4 linked regions of the Homo sapiens genome follow. The protein of the gene in region 4 purifies or fractionates together with the protein of the main gene of each other region. This does not show direct contact. Each region holds a gene or a part of one and is shown on either strand. Other genes may lie near its edges. The genes, in order: PPP5C, DNAAF10, MAP2K2 and KSR2.

Region 1 (7,544 bases), on a different chromosome or scaffold from region 4:
TGCCTGGAGAGAGGGTGGACGGTACTCCAGGCAGGGAAAAAAAAAACAAAAACAGGTGGCAAAGGCCCAAAGGTGAGCAGAGCCAGGCATGGAGGCCATAAGTGGGGCCACAGCGTAGGAGGCTGGAGGAGGTTATGATGAGTTTGCAGGGAGTAGATTGCGCAGGGCTGTAGGAAGGAGCCAGGGCTTTCTGGGGTGGGGTGGCGGTGGGGGGTGGGGCTCTGGGGAGCCCTGGGAGGTTCTGAGTAGGGAAAGGACAGGGTCAGGTTTGTGTTTTAGGAACACCCCTCTGGAGGGGCAGGACAAGAGGCTGCGAGGCCAGGTGGAGGCTGAGCCAGGAACCTGGGCAGGAGAGGCCAGACCAGGGCTGGGTGGGGCTGGAGGGTGAGAAGGGAGTGGCTGAATCTGAGAGATGTTCAGGAGGCTGACTTGGCAGAATAAGTGAAGTGACTACCGGGCTTTGGGGGCTGAGGGATGGAGAGGAGTCCAGGATGAGGCTGTCTCAGCCAGGTGATGGGGTGGAAGGTGGAATTCCCTGGGATGGGAGCAGCCTGCATGGGGGTTGCTGCTGAGGCCGCATCAGAATTCTGGGCCACAGCAGCCATTGGGAGGAGCCTGTTGCCCCCCAGGACCTGGGATCCAGGCTCTCAGGAGTCCTGGGGCTGGGCAGGCAGCCAGAGGGGCCTGGCACTGAGCTGGCACGGAGGAGAACGGCCCTGCTGGCCCAGGCCCCTTGCTGTCTGTCAGGCAGTAGCAGGCACAGAGCCCCAGGCTCCAGGGCTGTGGGAATAACAATAAAAAAGAATAATGACAGCTCACCTTAATTGAGCCTTGTGGCCAGGTACGCTGTGGGGTTTAATCCTCCCCGGGGGCTGGGAGATGGCTAGGAGTGGCCCTGTTTGTTTTATAAAGGAAGCAAGGCTCGGAGAAGTGAAAAAACCACTCGCCCAAGGTCAGAGTGTGTGAGCAGCAGGGCCCGGATATCCCCTTCCTCGCCACGTGCTTGGCTCCCACGTTCAGGTTCCTCCCAGAGCTGTACTGGCCCTGTTGAGGAGAAGAGGGGCCCCAGCAGGGAGAAGAGAGGTCCCAGGGCTCAGAGGACTGTCCCCTCAACTGTGGCTGGTTGCTCTGTAAGTTCAGGCCTATTCCAGAAATCCTGGGGGCAGAGCCTCGTCCCCCGTCTCATGTCTGAGTCTAAGGGAAGTGTCTCAACTGTCTTCCCCTCTCTGTGGGCCTCAGTGCCCCGCTTCTGTAAAATGGGGGGTGGGGGCTTATGCTTAACCCCTAAGGAGGCTCCAGGTATAAGAGCTTGTGGGGAGGAAGCAGGCCATGGTTGAGAGCTCAGGCTGCCTGGGTTCAAACCCTATGTCTTCCTTTACCTGCTTGATGACGCCTGGGCAAATGACTTAACTTCTCTGGGCCTCTGTTTCCTTGCATCTAAAATGGGGAATGTCTTGAGGCTTAAATATGGTCCTGTTTGTAAAGCGCATAGAACAGGGCCAGGATATGGCATGTGGGTCGACCCGTGGAGTACAGGCTCCTCCCATTTCCTCTTGTTCCCTTCACTTCCTCCCTTCATTTAGTCATTCACGCATTCACTTCTTTTGCCTGCTTCTTTTGCTGCAGCCAGTTTTCTTACACAAGTTCGTAAAATCCTCACGGCCACCCAGTGAGGCAGAGCTCAGAAAGAGGAGGCTATTTGCCTGCAGCCTCGAGTTAGAGATCTGCAGAGCCGGGTGGCAGGCCCTGAGACTCCAGGATCCCCTCCCTGTGCCACTGGAGTAACAGCTGCCCCATCAGGAGCGCGGGCCAGGCAGCCTCTGGACCACAGCCAGGAGGCCTGAAGGAGTCCTCAAAGGCGCTGGCATTCCAGGGAGGGTCGGTCAGATCTGGGCTGCCCAGTTCTGCCCTTGTTTGTTTTTGGGAAGTCCCGGGCCCTGCCCTCCTGGGGCTTACAGCTCTGGAGGGACACACTCATTACTCAACAGTGACGATGAGAGTGGACAGGGCTGGCACAGGAGATCCCAGGGGCTGGGGCAGCCCAGTCGGGGGCCTGACCCAGCCTGGGAGTAAAGGAGGGCTTCCCGGAGGAGGGGACATGTGAGCATTTGAAAGATTGCCAGGAGTTGGCGTGGCAAAGAGGAATGTTGTTAGATTGTTGCTGGCCACATCCCCAGGACCCGGCTTCTCCCTTCTGTAATGTCAGTCCTCATCTCTCTCTGCATCCCTCCTTCCTTTCCCTCTGGAGCCACTCATGGAGCCTGGGACTCTCTTCTTCCATCTCTTCAACCAACTGACTCCCATCCTCCAGGTCTCAGCCCCAGTGTCCCCTCCGAGCTGCCCCAACCCTAAACACTGGGCACCACTGTCTAGGGATGGATCTGTCTCCTCCACTGGATGGTAAGCCCTGGGAGGGCAGGGCTGTGTGTAAGAAGGACTCTCGGAGTGCTGTTGAGAACATTAAAATGGGAGTGAGGGTGGGGACTCTGTGCAGGGCTGCTGGTAGAAGGACTCTAGGAAACCCTAGTCCACAGGGGGTTCCTCAGTAGCCCAGGGATACCCAGGTAGTAAGAGGCAGAGCTAGGGACTGGGCCCAGGCCACCTACTCCTGCCTCTGTGCTTACCCCTGTGCCACGCTCCTGCCCAGAGGTCACCATGGCATGGGGCGTGAGAGTGGGAGCCTTTTGGTCTTGGCCTGGCTCAGAAGGCCCACTTCTCGGCCAGGCGCTGTGGCTCACGCCTGTAATCCCAGCACTTTGGGAGGCCAAGGCAGGAGGATCACGAGGTCAGGAGATCGAGACCATCCTGGCTAACACGGTGAAACCCCGTCTCTACTAAAAATACAAAAAATTAGCCGGGTATAGTGGCGGGCGCCTATAGTCCCAGCTGCTCGGGGGGCTAAGGCTGGAGAATGGTGTGAACCTGGGAGGCGGAGCTTGCAGTGAGCGGAGATCGCACCGCTGCACTCCAGCCTGGGCGACAGAGCGAGACTCCATCTCAAAAAAAAAAAAAAAAAGAAGGCCCACTTGTCACCTGCTGTGTGACCTTGAGCACCGGCCTTTCTTCCCTGAGCTTCAGTCCCCAGATTTGGAGACGGGGGTTAATGTAGTTTCCCTGGGCTTGTGAGAGTTCAGTGAAGGGGGACCTGTGTACTAAAGCCCTGCATGGCTCTGGTACATCACGGCCCCCAGTGGGGACAAGCCTCTAAGGCTGTTTAAGCCTTGGCTCTCCTGCCTGTCAAATGGGCACGAGGGAGGGATCAAGCCTGGCTCTGCAGGTGCAGACAGGGCATTTGACCTTGAGCAAGACCTCCATGGCTTGTCTGTAAAATGAGCACCAGATGGTCCTTACTCCCGTGGAGACATGAGGATTCCACAGGTCACGAGGTAAAGTGCAGGGTACAGCTATAGCTCATCTCAAATAAAATCCGACCTCTCCTCCTTGGCCAGATGTCACATCCTGTCACTCCACACTTAGAACATCAGTGTCCAGACCTCACTGTGGCTGCCCGGGGCCCAGGGATCTGTCCCACCAGCCTCCCTGCCTCATCTCTCCTCCCCCTGCCCACTCCACCCAGCTGCCTCAGCTCTCACTGGCCCTCAGACAAGGCTCAACCACCTCTGGGCCTCTGCACCTGCTCTTCTTGCTATCGGAGTGCTCTTCCCTCAGTCTGCTGCTAGTGCCCAGCTTGGGGCTGGAGGGGTGGGTGGGCGGGTGTGTGGAGTCCTGGAGACTGTGGCCGAGAGGACAAGCCCTGAGCTAGGTTGGTTGGGACAGGCAGGAGGGGCAGGCTGAAGAGATGTCTCTGGGCTCAGGGTAGCCCTCAGCTTCCCCATCTGTGAACAGGGAGACTGGGCGTCACCCAGCCCAGGGCCTGTCCTCGCAGGGTTGGAGCACTGCCTCATGCCTCTTCTTCTGTCTCCGCAGCCAAGGACTACGAGAACGCCATCAAGTTCTACAGCCAGGCCATCGAGCTGAACCCCAGCAATGCCATCTACTATGGCAACCGCAGCCTGGCCTACCTGCGCACTGAGTGCTATGGCTACGCGCTGGGAGACGCCACGCGGGCCATTGAGCTGGACAAGAAGTACATCAAGGGTTATTACCGCCGGGCTGCCAGCAACATGGCACTGGGCAAGTTCCGGGCCGCGCTGCGAGACTACGAGACGGTGAGCTGGGGAGTGGGCCAGGCCTGGCACCTGAGCCAGGCAGATACTGAGGGCTGGGCTGGCGGGGACGGGTGTGAGGAGCCATTCACTCCTCTACTTACCACTCAGCCAGCCAGCAAGTGCCTGTGGGGCCTTGGGCCCAGGCCAGAGTACCCAGGCCACAGCTCTGCTCAGCCATCTCACATTTTGTGACCCTGAGCCAGTTACCCCGCCTCGCCACACCTTCCTTTCCATATCCGTGAAATGAGGAGAACAAGAGGATCAGCCTCAAGGGTAGCGGTGAGGAAAAGTGAGCTTTTGCCTTTCACACGAGTAGACCAGTACTTGGCCCGGGGTCAGTGTCCTGTGATGGTTCACCTGATGGTTACTGTCATTGTTAGTGCTGGTGCTGGACAGGAGCCACACAGCCTCTCTTCTTCTGGTGGAGCTTGTCTTTCAGGGGCAGGCAGAAAACCCACCACTGAATAGGTTAGCAGAATAATTGCAGGTGAGGATCTGCACTTTGAAGAAAAGAGGAAGGGCAGTCGGGCACAGTGGCTCACGGCAGTAATCCCAGCACTTTGGGAGGCCAGGGTGAGAGGATTGCTTGAGCCCAGGAGTTTAAGACAAGCCTGGGCCACATAGGGAGGAGACCTCATCTCTACAAAAAATACAAAAATTAGCCAAGCGTGGTGGCACGCACCTTTAGTCCCAGCTACTCAGGAGGCTGAGGCAAGAGGATTACTTGAGCTCAGGAGCTCAAGGCCGCAGTGAGCTATGCTCTCACCACTCCACTCCAGCCTGGGCGACACAGTGAGACCCTGTCTCAAAAAAAAAAACAAGAAGGGTGATATGCTGCCAGGGACAGCAGACAGGATATGTGTGATATGCTGATGAGGGAGGGGACCTAGGGCACAGTGAGAATTCGCTAGTGCCCTCACCCACCTAATGAAAATCCTGACGGTATGAGGCTCTGCAGAGCGAGCACACACCTTCACACCAGGTGTGCTCTGCATCTTCCTTCAGGGAGGCTGGCTGAATCATTACAGCACCCTGGGACGTGGGAACTGGGATTACTCCCCTTGCACAGATGAGGAAACAGTCCCTAAGGGGTGAAGTCACCTGCCCAGTGACCCCCACCTGGTTAGTAGCAGAGCTGGGATTTGAACCCAGGAGGCCTGGCCTCAGGGCCTTATCTCTCCCACCTCAGAGTTCGCTCCCTGAGACGGGGCCGTGCGCTTGTCCTGCGCATGGGGATGGTGCAGCAGGGGGCTTGGTCAGTGTGTGTCGAGAGGATTGTTATCCTGCCCCCCGACACAGACACACTTCACTCCCTCCTTCCCTTGCAACCATCACACTCGGAGCTGCTTGTGTCGTGTAGGGAGGGGCAACCAGGGAGCTGGGAGCCGCGAGTCTGCAGTTGGTCGCGGGGCTGAGAAGCACGAGTCTGCAGTCGGTGGAGCCAGCTCAGACACTGTCCTGGCTGTTGGCCGCTGGCCTGGGGTGGAGGGTGGACTTCAGGCCAGGTGAAGGCTTGAGCTAAGCATGAGTCCAGGGGACACATGTTAGGATGGGGGCAGAGATGTGGCGGGGGGTTAGGGCGACACCTAGAAGGGTGGGGGCAGGGGCAGCAGAGCAGAGGCCTTCCCAGCTTGGGCTCCCAAGCCATTCTTGGCCAAGCCCCTCCCTCATTGTCTCTTCCTGTCCTAATCTAGAAAATGGTGACAAGAGGAGTGGCCGCCTCCGGATGGCTGTGGCTGTGATGACATGGTTGAGTAAAGGTCACGAGCTGCAGGGCTCAGTAATGAGTAACCAAGGACAGTCGGTGTTGGGTTGGGGCAGGGCTCCAGGTGGGAAGGGGGCCTGGGGAGACAGTGGGGCAGAAGAGAGGAGCCCCAAGGACAGGTTTAGGGCAGGGTCTTCATCTCGTGTGGGGCTGCAGGAGCATCTTTCCCCAGGGTAAGGAGCAGGGGCTGCAGGCAGGGTCTTCGTCAAGTGTGGGGCTGCAAGAGTGTCTTTCCCCAGGGTAAGGAGCAGGCTTTTCAAGACTCTGGCCCAGTCTAGGGCCCAACCCCGCATACTCCCAACCCCGCATACTCCCTGAGGCTGGGCTGGTTGGCTTCAGCCATCTTGTGGGTGTGCCACGTCTGAGCTGTGTCCCAGGCCTGGCGGATGGCAGGGAGGGTTGAGGGGGTGGGGAATTCAGAGTCTTTTACAGAATACCCAGCACCTAAATTGTCATGGCCCATTTCCCCATGGGGGCTCTCCCAGCAGCATTGGGGACCCCCACATGAACATGAGGGCTTACCTGTCATCAGGCCATCCATATGCCTGCAGGCCTTCAGCCTTGCTCCTTTCTGCGCAGTTCTTCAGGCTCCATGTGCCCTGGGGCAGTTCATCTTCCCAAGACTCTACCTCCTGCTTGCTGGATGCTAGAGTTTCCTCCTAGACCAGAAGCTCGCCAGGGAAGCAGAGCAAAGACGTGACCTTGGCCTTGGGCGGGGGAGCTCCCCTTAGCCTCGGTTTCCTCAGCGGTCTGCTCACTCTGGGCCCAGCACTGCTGGGAGCCCTTTGTGCACCTGAATTCAGCCTGAATTCAGACTGAGGCCTAGAGAGGAGATGTCCCTCCTCCAAGGTCACCCAGCAGGGAAGTGGCAGAGCTGAGACTTGAACCCCTAGTCCATGCTTGTAACTGTTTCTGGGCCACAATCAGTTGAATAGCTTCAGCACTTTTGTCTTCATCAAACAGAGAATTAAAAACGGTTCATTGTTTGGAGGAAGTGTGTATAAATATTGTTTTGTGGAAATGACTTTTCATTTACACAAGTACAGATGAGTGATGGATGTGATATAAAAATCCCTATTTTACATGTGGGCTGCAGGCAGAGAGTCTGCGGTCACCAGTGCAGGGGCTAGATGGGGCAGGCTCTGGGCTCAGGACGCCTAGGTTCACAGCCAGCTCAGATTGGGTAGCAGCTGCATGGCTCCTAGTGCCTTTTTTCTCAGCCTTAGTGTCCTCATCTGTTAAAGGAGGTGAGAATATAGGAATAACAACCAAAGTGTTTTTTCTTTGTTTTTGTTTTTTGTTTTTTGTTTGAGAGAGAGTCTTGCTCTGTCACCCAGGCTGGAGTGCAGTGGCACAAATCTTGGCTCACTGCAACCTCTGCCTCTTGGGTTCAAGCGATCCTCCCACCTCAGCCTCCCAAGTAGCTGGGACTACAGGCGTGTGCCATCAAGCCCGGGTAATTTGTGTAATTTTTGTGGAGATGGGGTTTCACCATGTTGCCCAGGCTGGTCTCAAACTCCTAGGCTTAAGGAATTTGCCCACCTTAGCCTCCCAAAGGGCTGGGCTTACAAGCATGAGCCATGGCACCCGGCCCCAAAGTGTTTTTTCTA
Region 2 (7,505 bases), on a different chromosome or scaffold from region 4:
AGGTGTGAGCACCGCGCCCAGCCCAGTGTAAGTTCTTAAAGGTATTTTTGTATTAGTTTTACCCTCTTTTTGGACAGTAGGCTCTTTAGGAGAAAGGACTCAACTTTTAAATCTCTTCGGTCCTTGTTAAACACAGTACCTTGAAATAGTGTGTTCTCAGACAACTCATGGTAGAAAAAAAGAATATCCAAAGGATTCAGGTGAAAATATACTTCTTTTTTCTTTTTTTATTTTTTGAGACGGAGTCTTGCTCTGTCACCCACGCTGGAGTGCAGTGGCGCGATCTCGGCTCACTGCAAGCTCTGCCTCCCAGGTTGAAGCCATTCTCCTGCCTCAGCCTCCTGAGTAGCTGGGACTACAGGCGCCCGCCACCACGCCCGGCTGATTTTTTGTATTTTTAGTAGAGACGGGGTTTCACCGTGTTAGCCAGGATGATCTCGATCTCCTGACCTCATGATCCACCCGCCTCGGCCTCCCAAAGTGCTGGGATTACAGGCGTGAGCCACCACACCCGGCGTGAAAATACACTTAGTGGTTATTCCTGGCATTGAGATTATGGGTGATATTTTCTTCGTTTTCCTATTTTCTAAATGTTCTATCGTGGACACATATTATTTTTGCTACAAAAGAAAATTATCTTTTTAAAATTTGCTGAAATTCCCCAGAGTCGCTACAAAAGACAAACTACTCTATTCCACTTGATGGAGTAAGTGTACTTTTGAAATACATACAAATCATATATTTTCATTTTATTATTTTTTGAGACAGGGTCTCTCTGTCACCCAGGATGGAGTGCAGTGGTGCGAACACAGCATCCTTGACCTCCTGGGCTCAAGAGATCCTCCCACCACAGCCTCCCAAGTAGCTGGGACTACAGGCTCGCATCACTATGCCCAGCTAATTTTTGTATTTTTTTTATACAAAAAGTAGAGACGGGGTTTCCCCATGTTGCCTAGGCTGGTCTTGAACTCCTGGGCTCAAGCAATCCACCCCACTGCCTCCCAAAGTGTTGGAATTGCAGGCGTTAGCCACTGCACCAGGCCTGTTCTTATTTTAAAAAGTCACAGGTCTAAGCCCTGATCCTGCCACTGCACTCCATCGTAGGCAAGAGTGAGACCCTGTTTCAAAAAAAAAAAAAAAATTTCAATCATGTCCCATTTTTCTTCGAAAAAGGAATAAATGGCCAGGTGCAATGGCTCATGTCTGTAATCCCAGCACTTTGGGAGCCCAAGGCGGGTGGATCACCTAAGGTCAGGAGTTTGAGACCTGCCTGACCAACATGGTGAAACCCCATCTCTACTAAAAATACAAAAAAATTAGTTGGGCGTGGTAGCATGTGCCTGTAATTCCAGCTACTAGGGAGGCTGAGGCAGGAGAATCGCTTGAACCTGGGAGGCAGAGGTTGCAGTTAGCCAAGATCACGCCACTGCACTCAAGCTTGGGTGACAGAGCCAGACTCCGTCTCAAAAAAAAAAAAGAAAGAAAGAAAAGAAAAAGGAATAAATCCTTTAAATACCTTTTCTTTTTAATGGTGGCTCACACCTGATCCAGCACTTTGGGAGGGAGAGGCGGGAGGATGGTTTGAGCCCAGGAGTTCCAGGCTGCGATGAGCTATGACAGTAGCACTGCACTCCGGACTGGGACAGAGCTACGCCATCCCTAAACAACAACAACAAAAAACAAAAACAACCCAAAATGCAATGTAAAGAAATTTTACTTTGTGTAGAAATCAGGAAGGGCATCATACATTAGATAATCTGAACTGAACATTGGAATAGCAACAGGTAGCCAGGCTTGGTGGCTCACGCCTGTAATCCCAGTATTACGGGAGGCCGATGTAGGCAGACTGCTTGAGCCCAGGAGTTGGAGACCAGCCTAGGCAACACGGTGAAACCCCATCTCTACCAAAATAAAAAATAAAAAAATAAAAAGTACAAAAAAATTAGTTAGGTGTGGTGGCACACACCTGTAGTCCCAGCTACTTGGGAGGCTGAGGTGGGGAGGCGGAGGTTGCAGTGAGCTGTGTTTGCACCACAGCACTCCGGGCTGGGTGACAGATTGAGACCCTGTCTCAAAAAAAAAAAAAAAAAAAAAAAAGCCACTGGTTACCAGAAGCTAAGTGATGAACAATACAAGGAACGAAGGAAAGGTAGAAAAAAATAAGCCATGTTTCATGTTTGTCATTCAGGGAAACTTAAAGCGGGATGGGGTCTTACATACTTTCTATTCTAGGCTTAACAGTCCAAATTGTATTCATCCTTTATCTACCAGTTTAATCCCTACCTCCTCCAAGCAGATTCTCTCCATAGGTTTTGATCCCCAGAGTTAACCTACCCTGCACTTGTAGTCTATTACAACCCTGATCTGATAATGACTGATCATTTTTTCAGGTAACAAAATCAACACTTTTTAAAAACTATAAACAGCTATAAAATGCTAGTTACTATCATTATTCTCTAATTCTTTCACTAGTAATCTTCAAAAAAACCTTGCAAACCTAATCTTTCCACACCCTGCTTAAATCCTTTCAGTTGTGTCCGTTTTTTCTTAGAAAAAAGGCATAAATCCTTTGAATGTCCTACAGATCTTGCAATGTCTGGTTCCTGCTTATCCCTCTAGTTTCTTAAGGAGATAAACTTCTTCCCATCACTGAGCTTCTGCATGTGCAGAAGCCCTGGAAACCTTGTCCTTTACTCCTAGTTTGACCTAGTTAGCTTCTGCACATACCAAAATCTGTTTTCATTCATCCCAAATCTGTTTTCACTCTCATTGAACCGTAACCGTGTTCCTTTGTGTGAGACAACTCATCTCGGTTTGTATTTATGTATCGTTGCTTTGATTATTGAACTGAGTATCTCTCCCACTAGAAAATAAACTCCATGAGATGGGGGACATTACCATTCACATCCCTGGGAATACCAGGCACTCAGCTGATGCCTGTCGAATGTGTTAGGTTGCCTCTTCCAACCACACTGCAGGCATCCTGGTGCCCGCTTTGGCTGGACTGCACTGGGGGTGGCAGGACGGTTGGGCGCGGAGGAACTACCCCGCGGATGAGAAGAAAGGTTTTAAATAGGAAACATTCCTCAGTCGGCGGTCAGCTTCTCTGGTCTCGCGCGGCTCAAGCCATGCTTTGGGGGACGCTGGGCGAAGGCTCTGGCAAAGAGGAATGCAGACCCCAGGATCCGCACTCGCCCCCAACGGCAGTCCGGATCCTCGACCCGGCACCCACCTCCCGAAGCAGCTTCAGGTCCCCGTGCTGGATCTCGTACAGCTGAATGACGCCGGTGCCCCGTGCGAAGTTGCCCATGGTCACAAATTTGGCGCTGCAGGGCACCCACTTACAGTCAAACACCGTGTAGTTGAAGCCCTTCTGGATATGGGCGATGATCTGAGGCTTCTCGAAGGCCGACATGGTGCAGCCAATTTCAGCTACGGCAACCGCCACACCCAGAGCCCCCAAAAACGGCAACCTGGAAACCAGACTCCAAACATTGGCAATTTGTCCCTCCCGCTTTCCGTATTCTGCCCCAGATGCCCTGGCATGTTGGCTGTAGTTATCCCCGGATAATGCCAGATGCGCTCCTGCGATCGCACAGAATGTTCCTTCACAACAGCACGAATTTGTTTATCGCCTTTACCCACTGCCTTTCGCACACATACATACTAGAGATTACAAAATACTTGGGCTGGGAGTTGCGCGGCTGGAGTGAGCCCAAGACCATCAGGCATATCTTAGGACAGCCTAACCCCGTTTTCCCCCCCACCGGCCCCAAATCCTGCAGGTCCCCGGCCTGTGACGTTTTAGGAAAGGGGCGGAGCTGCAGGGGTGGTTGGCTGAGGCTGGCTTCTGCGTGGTGCAGCTGCGCACGTGTTTCAGCCGGCAGCGCTTTAAGATTTCCGGGGATGGAATCCGAAATGGAAACGCAGAGCGCCAGGGCAGAGGAGGGCTTTACCCAGGTCACCCGCAAGGGTGGCCGACGGGCGAAGAAACGACAGGCTGAACAGCTGTCCGCAGCAGGAGAGGGCGGGGATGCGGGCCGCATGGACACAGAGGAGGCCAGGCCGGCGAAGAGGCCCGTCTTCCCACCCCTCTGTGGGGACGGGCTCCTGGTATGTGGCTGGGACCCTAGGACAGCAACGAGGCAAGGGCCAGACGCGGATCAAGCCGATGGCCTCTGGAGAATGTTGAAGCTGCGGTGGGGCTGTTCTGCCGTGATGCTCAGAGAGAAGTGATTCTTTGAAGTGTAACTAGTTCAGTTAAAGGAGGCCCTTTGTGGATCAGATGTCATTTTAAACTCCATCACCGTCCCTCCATAGCCTTCTGAGTTGTGTGTTCTTTTATTTACAGAGTGGGAAAGAAGAAACAAGGAAAATTCCAGTCCCAGCTAACAGATACACACCATTGAAAGAAAACTGGATGAAGATATTTACTCCTATTGTGGAACATTTGGGACTTCAGATACGCTTTAACTTGAAATCAAGGAATGTAGAAATCAGGGTAAGGAAAATCTCAATCATTTCCCAATACACCAGGCTTTCTCTCCTACAGAGATGAAAAGGCATGAATAGGCTTTACTTAATGGGACTTTTCTGTTGTATGGTTTTTGTCCAGTTTAAAAATTTACCATATTGAGTTTGAACTTCCCAAATGCCTTAAAAATCTGCATTCGATACAAATATTAATTGAATTTGTAAATTAGTTCTGAGATCACACCAAAATACTGGCTCTTCTTCTGTGTATCTTTTATAATGTTCTATGTCAAATTGAGAAAAGGTCGAGTAAAGAGATTGCCATAAACAGAAGCAGGTAAATAATGAATATAAGCACTTGCTGCTTTACAAGAAGTATATACAGTCAGCGTCGGGAATATGTTCTGGGATATGTTTTGTCAGATGACTTAGTCCTTGTGCGAATATTATAGAGTGTACTTACACAAACCTAGATGGTATGTGTATATTTGTTTATATATTTTTTTCATATGGAAAACCAAATGTCCCAGCACCATTACTGAATATCAGTCATTTCATCTACTTGATCTGCATTGCCGGTATCCAGTGCCATATATCAGGTTTCTGTATATTCTCCATTATACTGTTATGAGACCACCATGGTATGAGCGGTTGGTCACTGATCAAAATGTCATTATGCAGTGCATGACTGTGTTTTAATGGTGCTCTTTTGATTAAAAAATGTATTATTTTGATAAGAAACATGCATATATATGTGTGTGTGTGTGTGTGTGTGTGTATATATATCTTTTTATTTTGCTCTTTCACCCAGGCTGGAGTGAGTGGCATGATCTTGGCTCACTGTTAACAGGTGCCTGCCACCAAACCTGGCTAATTTTTGTATTTTTAGTAGAGACTGGGTTTTAGCATGTTGGCCAGGCTAGTCTCGAACTCCTGACCTCAGGTGATCACATCTCGGCCTCCCAAAGTGCTGGGATTACAGGCGTGAGCTGCCCCACCGAGCCTATGTATATATTTTAAATTCTGTGCTATCAATCCGGGAATTAGACATTTAAATTTACTTTGGGCTTTCTTTTCTGGGTGCCAATTTCATACCAGAATCGATAACCGAAATTAATTATATTTTCCTTTTTAAGGATTCTTTTACCATCATCCGGACTGGTATAGTCTCATCTCTGTTAATGGAATATAATAATGGAACAAAGAAAGGCACTATTCTAAATAGTTGATAAAGTGTAAAATATCATAGAACATGATAGAGTAACTCCTCTTTGTCCCTGTTGCCATTCTCTCATTCAGGCTTTTATGGTTTCCTGCCAAGGAGTGGTTTCGTTGTAGGTTTCCCTTGCTTCATTGTTTGACGTCTCTCCTTTCTCCACTCATCCATCTGCCAGTGCCAGATTAAGTTTCCCAGATCACAATGCTTTTATGACATCCTGGCATCTTCAAAAAACAAAAAAAAATTTTTTTTTTTTTTTTTTTTTTGAGATAGAGTCTTGCTCCGTTGCCCAGGCTGGAGTGCAGTGTCGCAATCTCGGCTCACTGCAAGCTCCGCCTCCTGGATTCATGCCATTCTCCTGCCTCAGCCTCCTGAGTAGCTGGGACTACAGGCACCCACCACCACGCCCGGCTAATTTTTTGTATTTTTTAGTAGAGACAGGGTTTCACCGTGTTAGCCAGGATGGTCTTGATCTCCTGACCTCATGATCTACCCGCCTCTGCCTCCCAAAGTGCTGGGATTACAGGCGTGAGCATCTTCAACATTTCTAAAGGAAAAAGTTTTGGACTTAACTTGCTTTTCAAGTAGGAGACTCAGTCACAAGTTTGTCTCTCACGGATCATAAAGTTTGTTTATGTCCATACTTTTTGGTGGCTTTGGCCTTTGAAAGAGGTCCGCTCCTCCCTACTCCTTTCTCTTTATACTTCAGTTCCAGTATCTTTCCGGGTCTAGCTCAAGTTCTTTCTCTGTTATGGTATGTCCATTTTTCAGTCATATCTTCAGTGCCTAAACTTTTCATGTGCTTTATTGTCCTATTTATTGCAGGATAATCACTTTGGATTCCACTAACATTTGTTGATGCTGCCATATACCAGACACACAGTGGTATTACACCATGCTCTACATCATTTAGTCTTCAGGATATTCCCATCTTAAAGATGTGAGGAAACTTGGCCACAGTCATCAGTCTAATAAGGGAAATTTTCTATTATACTAGTAGGGAACACTCAGGATCTTCTACTCTGACCTCCTCATTTTACTGATGAGAAAACTCAAGACCTAAAGTATCTATGGGACTTGTCTAAGGTCACATATAGGATTGGAACTAGGGTCTAGTTTTAAATGGGAAAGCTCTGGGGACTCTCCCATTGCACAAGCCCATATGGTTTTACATTTGTTGAATACGTGGTCTCTTCAACTAGACTGTGAATGTGCATGGGACAGTGGAAATAACAGTTTTGAAATCAGACCTGTGTTTAAATCTTACCTTTTTTGCTTTTTAGTACTTTAGTTTCCTCACATACGAAGGTAGTCATATCACTTAACATTCAAAGTTGTTGTGAAGGTTAGAGTTATGGTGTGTAAAGCATGTTATTTATAGTACGTGTTATTTACAGTGGTAGGCTTTTTATGAATAACAGTTATTTCTGCATTTCTCAAATAAACTTTGAGGACAGGTTCAGTGCTTCATTCATTCTTTATTTCCCCAATCAGTGCATGCAGGTAGTTAGGCCTGGAGCTGTTGGTTTAAGAAACATCAGCATATAAATGATAACTAAGAAGATTAAGTCAGGAATCCCAGGGAAGACTGCCTTGAGAGAGAAGAGAAGAGGACATTGGGCATTGAAGGGATGGACAGAAGGTAGAGGTTCTTCAGAATGGGAGAGATTGGGTTGTGCCAGAGGAGTCTTGCTGTTAACCCCAAAATCTGATCATATAGTGCGGTTAGTTATTTGACACTCTTTGGGTGGAACAGCCAAGCTTTGGAGCTGGGAACGTTTTGTTTTGCAAATAAAGTACAGCACTTATCTGA
Region 3 (7,544 bases), on a different chromosome or scaffold from region 4:
TCCTCGGGGGGTCATGTTGTGGGGGTTCTGGGAGGGCAGAGCAGGGGGTCCTAGGGGTCTCATGTTGGGGTTCTGAGGGGGTCAGGATGGGGTCCCAGGGAGGTCAAGATGTCAAGATGGGCATCTCTGAGAGGGCATCTCCTGCTTGTGGCGGTGCCCAGTGTGTGGAGTCCCTGAAGCTGGAAGTGTGAGGAGACAGGGAAGCCAGAGTGTGAGGAACGAGGAGGCGTGGGGATCAGGGGACCCTGCTGGCCCCTGAAAGCAGAGGTGCAGATTCTGAAGTGAGTGGACCGGAAAACCCTTGTGAGGGGCTGACCCAGTGCAGAAGCTTTGAGGAGGTGGAGGGCGACCAGAGGCCTGGGTGAAGGGATCTGAGAAAGGGGTATGCTGGGGTCCGGGTGGCGTGCTGGCAGAATCGCACTGCTCCAGGACGAGGGAGGGGACTGGGTGTTGGGGGCACACACTGGTGGGGTCATGCCAGGGTGATCTCTGCACTCCCGTTCTGCAGGCCGAGGCAGGGCAGGGCGATCCCCGGGGCCCTTGGCTGGGGTCCGGGTGCCGTGCCTGCGGTGTGACCCCTCAAGAACCAGGTGTCAGGGACTGTGGCATGTCTGGTGGCCTCTCCCGCTTGGGGGTCGGCCTTCTGTGACCCAGATGAAGACTCTTGATGCCAATGTGTGCAAGTCAACACGGGCACAGCCAGACACGGGGACCCGTTCCTCATTCTCTGCACAGAACTCGCCCTTCACATTTCTCTTCCGTGTGGGGTTTGATTCCCATCTCTTGAAGGATTCCCCCAGGAGAGGAAGCTGGCTGTAGGGACGCCAAGGTTTTGTTTTGTTTTGTTTAATAACCACAGTTGGGTTGCCAGTAAATTTAAGATGGATTAGTCAGCTGACTCCAGAATGCATTTTCAATGTTTTGAGCAGTACTTGAGACCTTCCAAGTCTGCCATCAGAAGTGTTCATTCATGGCTGGGTGTGGTGGCTCACGCCTGTAATCCCAGCCCTTTGGGAGGCCAAGGTGGGTGGATTACTTGAGGCCCAGAGTTCAAGACCAACCTGGCCAACATGGCAAAACCCCGTCTCTATTAAAAATGCCAAAAAAATTAGCTGAGCGCGGTGATGCACACCTGTAATCCCAGCTACTCAGGAGGCTGAGGCAGGAGAATCGCTTGGACCCAGGAGGCAGAGGTTGCAGTGAGCTGAGATCGTGCCAGTGCACTCCAGCCTGGGCGACAGAGCAAGACTGTCTCAAAAAAAATAAATATTCATTTATTCATTGATGTTATTCATTCATTCATTCATGTTCCCCTCCTTACCTTCTGTCCCACTCCCAGGGTCTCGCCATTTCTGCTTCTTCTGGGTCCTTGTTCAGCAGCTCCTCAGTGAGCACCTACTAGGGCCCTGTTTCCCCTCATGGGGGACACTAAGATGAGCAGGGGTTGTCCTGACCTCAGGCAGGTGTTGTTACCTCGGGCAGGTTCCCCCACCCCTGTGAGTCTGTTCCCTCCTGCCTGGGCCTCCGGGGACGATGGTGAGAATGGAATGAGATGGTGTTTGTCCAGCCCAGGAAGCGGTGCCCAGGCCCCTGCCTTCCAGCGAGCTCTTTGCAGCACCAGCTCCAGCGCCATCGCCTCGGTTCTGGCCTGTGTGCCCCGTGGCTTACGCCACTTCCAGCTGTAGGCGAACAGTGGTCGAACTTTGGGATTGGAAATTTCCAGATGGAAGGAGCAGTCCACGCCTTCATTCCCTGCTTCAGTCCCCTCTCTGGCTGTCCACCTTGGCTTTAGCTCCTTCCTGAATTGGGACCTCTGGAGGTGGCCTGTTCTTCCAGAGAGCCATTTAAAGCTGCACTGCCTGGTTGAGTAGCCCCTGGCTACAGGCAACACATAAAACAAGAATTGCCCAAACCCACGAGAGCATAGGCGCAATAATGCCATTGTAGATTTCAAAGGCTTAAGACGGAAACAGTGTGAAACATTCATTCATTTTTCATACTGGTTGTACGTTGAAAATGATAACATTTTTGATGGGTTAAATCAAATGTGTTATTAAAATTAATTTCAGCCAGGTGCAGTGGCTTATGTCTGTAATCCCAGCACTTTGGGAGGCCAAGGTGGGCAGGTGGCTTGAACCCAGGAATTCAAGAGCAGCCTGACCAACATGGCGAAACCTTGTCTCTACTAAAAATACAAAAATTAGCTGGGCGTGGTGGCGGGTGCTTGTAATTCCAGCTACTTCGGAGGCTGAGGCAGGAGAATTGCTTGAACCCGTGAGGTGGAGGTTGCAGTGAGCCAAGATCACACCACTGTACTCCAGCCTGGGCGACAGAATGAGACTTTGTCTCAGAAAATAATAATAATAATAAAAATTAATTAATTAAAAAGAGCCAGACATGATGGCTCACACCTGTGATCCTAGCTACTAGGAAGGCTGAGGTGGGAGGATCACTTGAGGACAGGAGTTGGAGGCTGCAGTGAGCTGTAATCGTGCCGCTGCACCCCAGCTTGGGAGGTAGAGCAGGACCCTGTCTCTAAATAAATGAAGTGAGTTCACCTGTTCTTTTTAAACATGGGTACTAGAAGATTTTAATTTGTGCGCATGGTTTACATTCCATTGCTTGTGCACAGCAATGGGTTCCTGTGTGCATTGCGCTTAGTTGTCTGTTACTCCAGGATCTGGTTCTGAGTCAAGGCATTTGTGAAAATAGCTTACTGTCGAAATTTCCTCTGAAGATTCCTTGAATCACCCAATAAAGTGCAATGTACTTGCTTGTTTAAATTGTTAGAAATTTTTTATTGTGTAGAAACAAGGTCTTGCTCTGTCACCCAGGCTGGAGTACATTGTCACGATCATGGCTCACTGCAGTCTCGACCTCCTGGGCTCAGCCTCCTGAGTAACTAGAACTACAGGCATGAGCCACTGTGCTCGGCTATAGGTCTCACTTTGTTGCCCAGGCTGGTCATGCTTATTTTTTGTTTTTTTTGTTTTTTGGTTTGTTTTGTTTTGAGACAGAGCCTCCCTCTGCTGCCCAGGCTGGAGTGCAGTGGCAAGATCTCAGTTCACTGCAATCTCCCCCTCCCGGGTTCAAGCAGTTCTCGTGTCTCAGCCTCCCAAGTAGCTGGGACTGCAAACGTGCACCACCGTGCCTACCTGATGCAGCTTTTGTGCTGAGCCTTCTGCCCTCTACTCTTGGTTCTCATTCTGTGCTCTGAGGCTGCTCAGAACGCTTGTTCCTCTATCTCCTGCAAAGACAGACATCTTGGCCCGGGCTCCGTTCACCCGATCCCAGCTTCCTCGTCTCCTCCCGACATGGTCCGGAGCTCGTGCGTTAGGAAGGAGGTCTCCCGGCCGCGTGCAATGGCTCACGCCTATAATCCCAGCACTTTGAGAGGCTGAGGCAGGCGGATCACTCAATGTCAGGAGTTGGAGACCAGCCTGACCAACATGGCGAAACCCTGTCTCTACTGAAAATACAAAAATTAGCCGGGCATGGTGGCGGGAGCCTGTAATCTCAGCTACTTGGGAGGCTGAGGCAGGAGAATCTCTTGAACCCGGGAGGCCAAGGTTGCAGGGAGCCGAGATCGCGCCACTGCATTCCAGCCTGAGCAACAGAGGGAGACTCCGTCTCAAAAAAAAAAGAAAAAGAAAAGAAAAAGACGGAGGCTTCCTGGGTCCTTTGAGCTGCAGCTTATCCTTGAGGTCCTGAGGTCTGCTAGACTTGTTGAGACAGGATCAAGGCAGCGTCCTCAGTTCCCGGGGAGCCGCCCTGGATTCTGGTCATTGGTGTGTCTATGGGGGTACACAGCATGGATCCTTTCCTTCTACACCATGAACCCCTCAAGTGCAGGAATCCAGTCTGTGTCCTCCTGGGGGCCGATGCACCACGGCCACATAGCAAACGGCCAGATGGAGTCTCCCTAGGTAGCTAACCCCTACCCTGGGGGGTCTCTGCAGGGCAAACCTGGTGGACCTGCAGAAGAAGCTGGAGGAGCTGGAACTTGACGAGCAGCAGAAGAAGCGGCTGGAAGCCTTTCTCACCCAGAAAGCCAAGGTCGGCGAACTCAAAGACGATGACTTCGAAAGGATCTCAGAGCTGGGCGCGGGCAACGGCGGGGTGGTCACCAAAGTCCAGCACAGACCCTCGGGCCTCATCATGGCCAGGAAGGTGAGCACTGCGGGGTCGGGGAGGTCGGGGAGTGGTGGGGAAGGTCCCCCTGGAAACAGGAGGCAGGTTGGGAAGGCAGCCGGGTCTCTGCATTCTGATTAGCTCCAGGCTCTGTCCCTCATCCCCACCAGGGACTCTAGGTCCTGAGAAAGGGCCCAGCTTCTGGGCAGATGGGAGCCGTGCCAGCCACACCAGCCACACACAGCTGTGCCCTCCAGTGACTACTTTCTGCCCTGGAGGGCACTTGAAATCCATATTCCCAGAAAGCTAGCACGTGGGGGTTTCAGAAATGCGAGTGTGTTATGGTTCTCCAGAGAAACAAGCGATGAAGACGAAGCGTGTGTGTGTTTGCGCCTATGTGTACAGCCACCTCAGGGCGATGGCTCAGCCAGTGACAGACCGCCTACGCAGCGGTGGCGACGTAAGATGATCAGGCCATGTTTTTGCTGTGCCTTCTGTATGTTTATTTTTATTTTTATTTTTACTTTTTGAGACGGGGTCTTGCTCTGTTGCCCAGGCTGGAGTGCAGTGGCATGATCTTGGCTCACTTCAACCTCCGCCTCCTGGGTTCAAGGATTCTCTTGCCTCAGCCTCCCGAGTAGCTGGGATTACAGGCACACACCACCAGGCCCAGCTCATTTTTTTGTGTTTTTAGTAGAGGCAGGGTTTCGCCATGTTGGCCAGGCTGGTCTGGAACTCTTGACCCCAGGTGATCCGCCTGCCTCGGTTCTCTATATTTAAATAAACAGACAGCAGCTCAGCACTGCGCTGTACAGAGCATGGGAGCCTGGGTGTGGAATGGGCTTTCCAGTGTTTGCACAGTGACGACATCGCCCAGAGAGGGATTTCTCAGTGTATCCCTGTCCTTAATGATACTTGAGTGTATGTGTAGAGAGAGATTTATTCTAAGGAATTGGCTGGAGTGCAGTGGTGCGATCTTGGCTCACTGCAACCTCTACCTCCTGGGTTCAAGGGATTCTCCTGCCTCAGCCTCCCGAGTAGCTGGGATTACAGGTGCATGCCACCACACCCAGTTAATTTTTGTTTTTTTAGTAGAGATGGGGTTCACCGTGTTGGCCAGGCTGGTCTCGAACTCCTGACCTCAAGTGATCCTCTTGCCTCGGCCTCCCAAAGTGCTAGGATTACAGGCATGAGCCACCGCGCCTGGGCAGGCTTTTCCCTGAAGGCCTTCAGCTGATTGGCTGAGACTCACCCACCCTGGGGTGGAGTAATCTGCTTTGCTCAGAGTCTGCCAATTTAAAGGTTAATCACATCTTAAAAACATACCTTCCCAGCAACCTCTAGACTGGCGTTTGACAACTGGGCACCGTGGTCTCACCGAGGAGACACACAAAGCTGACTGTCACCCACCCTTTGAAAGTCTGCAAGCCCTGGTGCTGACGGCCCCCGTGCTTAGTCATCCCGGGCTCCTGGGCCATGATGCAGCCTCTGTGCTCTGTGTTTGAGAATAGTGCCCAGGGGATACAGGGAGGATGTGACCACTTGGGGACAGTGGCTCTTAAACACAGAAGTAGGGGACTTAGTGTTGACAGGGTGTTCAGCTCCTCACCGGTGTTCTTTCAGACCTAGAACGCTGCCTCTTCCTGGAAGCCCACCATCCTGTAGTTCCCCAAACTGGGGGAACGTGACTGCACCTAGTCCCGTGGGTCTGCGCAGGTGGCAGCAGTGCTTGAGGGCCCTGCCTTCCTCGGGAGCAGCGGCTCAACTCCTGCGGGGATTTAGCTCTGCAGCTCTGTCTTCTGGCCTCTAGAGTGCTGCCCTCCCTCCCTCCTGAAGTGTGCAGCCGCGGACTTGCTATTTCTGTCCCCGTACTGCAGGCAGCCTCTTCCAAACCGGAGCAGCCTTGGAAAGCTCAGGTCCGCCTCCGCCCGAAGCACTGGGTGGAAAAAGGCAAGCGTGTGGTTCACACAGCCACAGCAGGGCCTTGAGACAGTGCCAGTCCTCGTGTGTGCCAGGGACCCTCAGGCTTCTGGGGGAGCCTCCAGTGGTCCCTGATGGGCTGGGCAGTGGACATGAACCCAATGCTTGCTGTATCAGCAGCTCCTGCTCCTGCTGACAGGCGCAGGTGAAGCCGGGCCCACCTGCAGCTTTACTGTAGCGGGGAAAGGGAGATCGGGGCCTTTGAACCTGAGGGCAGGCGTGGCTGGGCAGGTTCTGTGGTCTGGTGGGTGGAGATGTCCCAGCATCAGCTCTGGGTGTCAGTACTGTCCTTCCGTCATGTAAGATGTCAGTCATCTTGGGGGAGGCGGGGAAAGGGCGCACGGGACTCTCGTTACTATTTTTGCAACTTCCTGTGCTTCTATAATTCTTTCAAAATTAGGTTTTCTTTAAAGTGCCCGAAAACTCGGGTGGGAGAGGATGCATTGAGCTCGTGGGCTCAGCGGCTCTGGCTGCTATGCAGGTAGGGCTGCAAGGGCTCCTTTCATTTCATCTTATTTATTTACTTATTTTTATTTATTTATTTTTTTGAGACAGAGTCTCGCTCTGTCACCCAGACTGGAGTGCAGTGGCACAATCTCGGCTCACTGCAACCTCCACCTCACAGGTTCAAGCGATTCTCCTCCCTTAGCCTCCTGAGTGGCTGGCATGCCTGGCTAATGTTTGTATTTTTAGTAGAGACGGGGTTTCACCATGTTGGCCAGGCTGGTCTCAAACATCTGACCTCAAGGAATCCATGCATCTTGGCCTCCCAGATTGCTGGGATTACAGGCGTGAGCCACCGCGCCTGGCCCAGTCTCGGTATTTGAGGTCATGCTGGTTTGTAAATGTCTTTTTGGCTTGACCGTGGCCTCTGACCCCTCTCCCATTGGAGCAGCGTCCCCGCGTTACCTGGGCCAGGGAGATAGGTGAAGAACTTGCTGCTTGTTACGCGTGTGGGGCTTCTTTGAATTGTCCATGCTCATAGCAGAGATGAGAGTGTTTGTTCTCGCCTCTGAGTTCCTCCACTCCGCTGTAGCTTACTTCCAGGGTGGCGGTCACACGGCCTGCCCAAGGCCACCTCACAGTACCAGCTGCTGTCTCACAAGTGACGACCTGAGTCGAAGCCGCTGCCAACACCTTTGACGCGTGTTCTCATTAAAATTGAACAGCAGCCTCGTTTTACAGTTGAAGAAACCGAGGCTGTGTGGGGTCAGTGCCTGAATCGGATTCGAACCCTCTTGGATCTGCTCGGACTTGGGAGCAGCTGCCGGGGCTGAGCCTCCAGATCCACTGCACTGCGGTCCCCTAGCTGGCCACCGCTCCCAGCCTGTGTGTTAATTTTTAAAATCTCTTGTAGAGATGAAGGCTTGCTACGCTGCCCAGTGTTGAACTCCTGGCCTGAAGCGATCCTCCCGCCTCAGCCTCCCAAAGCA
Region 4 (7,544 bases):
AGCAAACACACCACTCCATCAACAGGACTGATACATTCTTTCCCACACTTCAGGCTGTATTGCAGGCTTGGCCTGTGGCCCACTATGGCCCCTAGGTCTTCTTCAGTCATTTCTGTAACAAACCAGCATTTTGCCCATCATACCTGAAATGTTTAGTTAGAGACCCTCAGTGTAGGGTCTTTCCATAAATACATTTCCACGTTCACACATGTCCTTGACCTCAACACTTCAGGGGCCTATTCATAGAGTGATATGAACTGTCCCAGAAAGAGGTTTTTTGCTGAAGAAGGTTTTTTGGTATGGCAAGACAGAACTGGGGGCCCCAGAGACATCAGAGACACAGGTCGCAAGAGTCGATAGAGGGAAAGTGAAGCAAAAGAGGAACAGGAATGAAAAATGCATTAGAGAGAAGGGCTCATGGCCAACCCATCTATAGCCAAGATGCCCATGGACTTCAGGACCCAATGCAGGGCACTAAGAAATAGAGACACATCCTTCACTGTGTGGAGGCAGGCAGAGACAGAGACAGACACAGAGACAGACAGACAGAGAGAGAGAGAGAGAGAGAGAGAGAGAGAGAGAGAGGTCTGTAGAGCCAGAGAGGGATGCAGAGCAGGCCTGAGGTGGCCTGAGTACTGGTCTGACTCCAGCAAGCACAAAACTCTCCTCAGACATCTTCCCCCACAGGACACCAAGGCTAACAGTAGGAACCAGAGCATGCTGGGGAAAGAAGTCAAGGTCTCCACATCTGAGCCAGGGCACCCTCTGTTTGGAGATGGAGACTCCAGGGTCCCAAAATCAGGCTTTGGGGAAAGCAGGGAAAGGCAGGCAAGTGCCAGGGGGCAGGATTTTAGCCACTTGCAGTTACCCTCAATAAATCATGATCTTGCCTCTGAGTCCACACATAGGCTGTTCCTTCTGTCTGACACACCGTTCCCTACCATTCTACTCAAATTTCAAGACAGGGTTCAGAAGTCTCCTCCTCTGAGAATCCTTCCTGGAGGGTCTTTCTCTGGGTTGGGAGCTCCTGTGGGGCCTCGGGACCCTACTGGAACTCCTCCCTCTCTTCATCGGACTCCTAGTACCCTGAAGGCAGCACCCACTTTTCTCCATTTTTTCCAGAATCACAGGAGGCACTTAACAAATATTTACTAAATGACTATATAAAATGAAGATTTGGGGAATGAAGGGACAAGGTTGCTCCACGCTGGGCTCTGCTGAGGGTGTAGTGAATGGGGCTGGGGACATGAGCCTTTGAAATACAAGCAAAATTTTCTTAGAATCCTTCGGCTGCTCAACTGTAGGCATTTGAAATCCACCAATGTACCCAAAAATAGGGCTATGAGGAAACTAGAGGACCGGGGCCCAGAAGCAGTGCCTTGTGGAATATGGGACAGCTATGGGAGCTCATGGAGAACAGAGACTCCAAATTGGATGCCATCTTGGAAGTGGAGTCAGAGAAGCTCATGTGACAGCATGCCTGACATGCCACCATATGGGCTTCTGGCCTCTGTGCTCCAAGCCTTGGGGCTTTATGAGGATTGATTCCAGACGCAAAGTCAGGGTGTGTTTTGATGGGGTGGGGAGTACAATCTATGATATTCCTTGATAGGTTAGGACCGCAGAGGCCCTCAGGAGGAGATAGACTTCCGAAAAGAAGGAAGAAGGAGCCAGGCAAAGATTTATGCATCACACAGTTGGGCAGAAGCCTGACCAAGGACAGCCCCTCCCTTAATGCTCCAGTCGAGCCAGGACTGTCCAGATAGCTTTGAAGGGGCAGGGTGTGCAGTGCTCCCTAGAAGGCTGGCTAGGAGGGAAAGGGGGCCGGGGCAGGGGGCCTCGGTGTGGCAGGGCAAGTACCTTAGAGTACCTTGATGCCCATGCTGTAGCTACATAGCAGTTACTTGAACTTACACAAGTTCATATGTACCCATCTAAACATTATTACTTGTAACACATGTAGAAAAATAAGCAGAGGAAAATGGCTAGAATCTTACAGGACCAATACATTACATTTGTTGTCCAGGACGCACTTAAGCTGCCAATGCCCCAACCTGGGCAGGGCTGTGTTGGGGAGAGGTTGACCCCATCTAGGGCAGAGCCCCAGCCAACTCAACTGTCTTCTTGGAAGGTGTCCCAATTCCCAAAGCAATTTTCCAAGATCTGGTCTTTTGCAGTGCCCGACTCGTCCTCTCTGTTACCCTTCCCAATCCTGGGACTGCCGGAAGCTCCAGGGATTTGATTCTAGGGGTAAAACAGCTGGACCTACAGAGGCCATCCTCACCCACTGCCTGTCTCCATGCCCAAATCAGTCACACGGGACTGGACAGAACTGCCACATCTTGTCCAGACTGTCTATGTTGTTGCTTCATTGCTACCAGAGACAGCCATTCTAACCCGGCCTGACTCTCTTCTTCACAGTGAACTGGGAATTGCAAGGAAGGTAGAAAAGGCCCTTCACTATCTGGGAGACTTTCCTTCCTGGGGAATACAGAAGGGCTTTCCCTGAGTAGCCTCAGAAAGCAACACCAAGATTGCCGGATGCAAGTCTCAAGATTTCAGCTCAGCAAGAGGATCTGCTTCTTAGAAGGGCTGTGGAAGGATGGAGAGAATGACTGGAGATTTCAGCCCCTGTCCGTGCAGACGGTGAAAGGCAAGTCCACATTCTCCTTACCTAGACAGCCTTCAAACCACTGGTGATGCTAACTAGTGCTTTAAAAACCTATTTCCCTGCAATGTTCACTTAAGGAGTCCCCTCCTTGTGTTTTCCTGTTCTCCTCTGATTTCCTTTCTCCCATGGAAGGTTGCAGATGGCAGGATGCTGGATTTGAATCCTAGTCGCGTGGCCTGGAGACAACTCAGGGGACATCTGGCAATGTCTGGAGATGGTTTTGGATGTCACACTTTGGATGTCAACTGGAGGCTTTTGAAATCCACCAACATACCCAAAAATAGGGCTATGCTGGAACTAGAGGACCGTGGCCCAGAAGCAATGCCTTGTGGAATATGGGACAGCTATGGGAGCTCATGGAGAACAGAGACTCCAAACTGGATGCCATATCAGAAGTGGGGGTCAGAGAAGCTCAGGTGACACCATGCCTGACATGCCACCATATGGGCTTCCAGCCTCTGTGCTCCAAGGCTTGGGGCTTTATGAGGATTGATTCCAGACAGCAAAGTCAGGGTGTGTCTGGGGATGTTTTTGGATGTCACCAGTACCAGGTGCTACTGGTATCTTGTGGGGAGAGTTGAGGAAGCTGCTTAACATCCTCCAATGCCCAGGACAGTCGCCACCTCAAAGAATTATCTGGCCCCAAATAGCTCAACAGTACTGAGGTTGAGAAACCCTGGCTTAGAATGAACATCTCTTTATCCTTCTCTTCCTTTAGATCTTGACTTAAATGTCACCTCCTCAGAAAGACCTTTGTCAGCAGCTCTCCCACAGTATACCCTCTCCCATGTTTCTGGTCCCCCGTGAGTTTTCTTTCCATAGATCTACATGAGTTGCAAATTTATATATTTGTGGTTGACTTGCTTCTTGTCTCTCTTCCCCATTGGGCTTTAGGCTTCAGAACAGGTGAGACATTGTATCACTCATCACTGAATGCCCAGGGTCTAACACATAGTAGATGCTCAACAAATCACCCACTGAATGAATGGTTGGTGAAGAAATCTCTGTCAGAGAGGACAGAGGTTCACTGAATTCCAGACAAACCCAGAATGCCAGCATCTGTGTGAGGACACAAAGACCTCTCTTCTACCTTGTTCATCCTGTCGCCCACCACTCAGAAAAGGCCTCTGGTTATTGTTGGCCTGTATTTATTTCCTCCTGATATCCTGGTACCAGCCTTTCCAAAATTCTCACTGTAGTGCTGGAGGTCAGGGTATTTTTAAACTAGAAGAACTAGCCAAGCTGGTTTTTTTTTTTTAAGTGGTGGAAAAGAAAAACTAAGATTTGTTTTTAATCATTAGACTTTCAAATTTAAGAAGGCGCGATGCAAATAGCATGTTGGCATAAACAAGTGCTGCCCGCTCAATGGAGGGAGGGAGCCTTTCTTCTGAGCTAATTTAAGCTAAATACATGGCAGCTATTTTTCATCTCTACAATTGTGCAACTTTCTCCTCAGTTTACAATACAGGGGAGATATTATCGGGCAGAAGTTGGATGGGGGATAAGTGAAGACGAGAAGGAAAAGAAGAGGCAGTGGACAAGAAGGTACTCTCAGCCACCGAGCTGGTGATTAGAGGTATTTCAAGAGCTCAGGAGTAGAGCTGGTGGTCCACTAGGACCTCAAGATCTTATCTGGGTGGAAACTTGATTTTGAGCCTTCCATTCAGGGAAGAAACCAAAGAGCAATTGGAGTCAGGCTCCTTTTCCTGCCCTTTATATGCAGCACCCCCTGACTTCCCAGAAGCCCAGACTGAACAGCAGAAATTTTACAAACCTCCTCAAGAAAGAAAAGCCCTTGCAGCTCTCCTGCACACCACCACGCACACTGTTATTCCTTAAGGCCCCCATATGCCGTGACTTCCAGCCCAGCTGTTACTAGACTGGGCATAGCATTCAGGCCTTGTGGTGAAGCCGTCCCAGAAGATAAATGATTTTTCTCCAAGCAGGCAGATTACCGAGTAGGATCATACACAGAGTCTTAGAGACAGAATCTTTCTTTCTGCATTTTCCAAGTTCCCTAACTGAGAAGAAACATCTGCAGAGCGCTGATAGACTGTCCACCAACTACAGCCCAAATGGCTTGGCTTCTGGAAGTTTCTGAGGCCTGAGTTCTAAACCTACCTCTGCCTCTTAGAAGGGACCTGACTTAGGGGAGTTTATTATAGCTTCCCTCTCTGGGCCTCAGATCCTGCTTCTGTGAAAGGAGAAGAGTGAGATAAGGGAGGGTCACTCATATCCATCTTAAGTGGTAACTCGAATGCCCTGAAGCTACATCTGTGATCAGTGGGAAGGCATGCTGTGATGGATTAGTGATGTCTGCCAAGAGTACAGCAGGGGACACTGGTGGTAGATCCATTACATATTTGTACTCCTTGGACCAGATCTTTATCCTTCTAGATCTTAGAGGTCCTTCTAGATCACCATCCCAATGACTTGGTTGAAGATGAAAACTCAGGTGAAAACTTAACCCTTCTGAGGGTGTTACATCTTATATACTTTTCACATTGGCCTCCAAGCCATGGTATGTTGGAGAAGCCACCAACACACAGCAGATTTGACCCCTCCATTGGAAGACACCATCAGCCAGATGTGGTGTTCTTGTTCATGGAACCACTGTCCACATGGATGGAATCGGGCTCTAAGCTACCTTTCTCATCTCCTAGCAGTGTCTATGAATGCTAGTGGTCAGCTCTTTTCTGTGGGCCAGTACATTGACATTGCCTCCTTCAGTACCAGGTAAGGTATCAAGTCTCATTCACAGAGGTTGACCTTGTTGGAGATTCAGAAACAAGCCTGGGAAAGCTTGGGAAGAACAGCCTCCTATCAGGCATTTAGAGATTCAACCACACAATAGTGTCTTAAAAGTTCTGATAAGTCCTGCAATCAAGAAATTAGTTTCATTTTACCTAAGCATTTCCAATGCATGCTTGTCCCAGGACCCTTTCAATAATGCAAATCCGGCGAGTTTTCCATGGAATGAAAGGTCTATGGGACATGCTTGGGAAACAAGGTCTTATTTAGATCAGGCACATTCTAGACAGAGTCCATCTCCTCCAGCTCAGTCCTCAGTGGAAGGAGGACAGCCATTCTCAACCCCATGAGATGAATCCTTCATATTCTTGGTGTTAGGAAATGGGAGCTGCATGATCCCAATGAGTGGGAAGGAAGGGCCCTTTCCCACCCCTGAGAGGGAAGAGCACTCACTGATGTACGCCTCTCAGGAACACGGGACCACAGTGCAACATCCAGCAGGAGAGACGGAGGGGATAGGAAGCCTGGAGCAGGGATACTGGAGGGACCCAGGAGGGACTCTGCCAACCCAGATGTACATTTCCTGGAAATCCGGGCTGCTGCTGGCAGCCTGTCAGTTTGAGAACATAAGTTCAAGCTTCCGTGCAAACTCCCAGTATGGTCCCTGCCAGCCCCTGCACCCTCCCTTCCACAACTTCCTGCTTTTCCTCTCTCTCTTTCCTGGTTCCAAGTTGCCAATAAGTCTCAGAGGCTGGGATTGTAACATCCCCATGAGCAGCTGGACATGAACCCCTTGACCTGGAGGTGGGTTCCTGGGAATGGATGAGCCCAAAGACTCGTTTTTAAAATGCTGGGTCTGCAATTTGGAGGCTGGTTTCTGTCCCTGTACCACAGTTGCCCCATTGGAACGAGAATAAGACTACTGATCTCCCCAAACCATCATAGGAATTCCAGCCTGGCACGTAGTAAGTGCTCTGTGAATGAGGGCTGTTCAGGGTGGATTGTTACTCTGCCTCCTAGACATCCTGGGCCACCTGACTCAATGGGTCGCTTCATACGTCACAGATATTAAACCTGGCAAACTGGCTCAGCACAATGGCTTAGCCCTGTAATCCCAGTGCTTTGGGAGGCTGAAGCAGGGGGATTGCTTGAGACCAGGAGTTCAAGACCAGCGCGGGCAACATAGCAAGACCCTGTCTGTACAACAAATAAAAAATTAGCCAGGCATGATGGTGTGCACCTGTAGTACCAGCAACTTGAGAGGCTAAGGTGGGAGGATTGCTTGTGGCCAGGAGTTCGAGGCTGCAGTGAGCTATGATCACGCTGTACTCCAGCCTGGGTGACAGAGCAAGACTCTAACTCTAAACCACAACAACAAACCTAACAAACAAACTCATTGGGGTTGATATGGCACCCACAACATGGTCTGGCAAAGGGGAATCCCAATACCATCCAGCCCTGCCAATGGTGCCCTTCTAACTCCCTGTGCCAGGGTCTTACTCTTACCCAGCAAACCTCTCTGTCTGCATTCTGTAAACATTTCTTGAGCACTTACTATGTGCCAGGCACTACTAAGACAAGTCCAGGAGGTCACTGGGACCGCAGATTTTCCATCAACCTCCTGCCCCACTACTGGTTTCAAAACTAAACTGGTAACAGAATGGGTATGGATTGCAGGGCCTCGAGAAGGGAGTCTGGGATTTGGGTTAATATCATAGTCAGGCACTGACCAGAGAGGACAGAGGTTCACTGCGGCTCCACATTCCAGGACCCAGACTGACATTTGCTGCCTGTCACTCCCCTTGGAGTTCAAAGTGATTCCCTTGCAGGTGTGTGCAGGTGAGGGTGAGGTGGTACGGGAGGAGGTGAGGCTGGGAGCCAGGGAGAGTGGCCACATGAGTCTGCCTAGGAACTTCCCCACATCACAGGCAAAGCCAAAAAAGGAAACAGCAAAATGTAGCTCATCAAAATCCACTCCTTTGTCAATGAACAAGAGTATAGATAAAATCAGATGCTGTGTCACCAACTGCTTTGGATAGGGTCATGAGGCACATTCAGGGGTCAAGTGACAGTCCGCTACAGACAAGCCACTTACACACAGGCTGTTCCCATACAGCCACAG

What was found.
Region 1: the proteins of KSR2 (region 4) and PPP5C purify together in Homo sapiens (affinity purification with mass spectrometry; 2 studies listed by BioGRID and IntAct, with this or other methods). This does not show direct contact.
Region 2: the proteins of KSR2 (region 4) and DNAAF10 purify together in Homo sapiens (affinity purification with mass spectrometry; 2 studies listed by BioGRID and IntAct, with this or other methods). This does not show direct contact.
Region 3: the proteins of KSR2 (region 4) and MAP2K2 purify together in Homo sapiens (affinity purification with mass spectrometry; 3 studies listed by BioGRID and IntAct, with this or other methods). This does not show direct contact.

Annotation. Positions count from the first base shown.
Region 1 is NC_000019.10:46,349,821-46,357,364, forward strand, and holds part of PPP5C (serine/threonine-protein phosphatase 5), read left to right. Parts: intron 1-3,927; coding exon 3,928-4,169; intron 4,170-7,544. UniProt on the Homo sapiens protein: Serine/threonine-protein phosphatase that dephosphorylates a myriad of proteins involved in different signaling pathways including the kinases CSNK1E, ASK1/MAP3K5, PRKDC and RAF1, the nuclear receptors NR3C1, PPARG, ESR1 and ESR2, SMAD proteins and TAU/MAPT.
Region 2 is NC_000002.12:68,154,029-68,161,533, forward strand, and holds the start of DNAAF10 (dynein axonemal assembly factor 10), read right to left. Parts: upstream 3,500-7,505; 5' UTR 3,416-3,499; coding exon 3,233-3,415; intron 1-3,232. Other genes in the region: RNA-binding protein PNO1, read left to right, coding at 3,907-4,113, 4,352-4,501. UniProt on the Homo sapiens protein: Key assembly factor specifically required for the stability of axonemal dynein heavy chains in cytoplasm.
Region 3 is NC_000019.10:4,114,045-4,121,588, reverse strand, and holds part of MAP2K2 (dual specificity mitogen-activated protein kinase kinase 2), read left to right. Parts: intron 1-3,959; coding exon 3,960-4,170; intron 4,171-7,544. UniProt on the Homo sapiens protein: Catalyzes the concomitant phosphorylation of a threonine and a tyrosine residue in a Thr-Glu-Tyr sequence located in MAP kinases. Activates the ERK1 and ERK2 MAP kinases.
Region 4 is NC_000012.12:117,454,488-117,462,031, forward strand, and holds part of KSR2 (kinase suppressor of Ras 2), read right to left. Parts: 3' UTR 1-7,544. UniProt on the Homo sapiens protein: Location-regulated scaffold connecting MEK to RAF. Has very low protein kinase activity and can phosphorylate MAP2K1 at several Ser and Thr residues with very low efficiency (in vitro).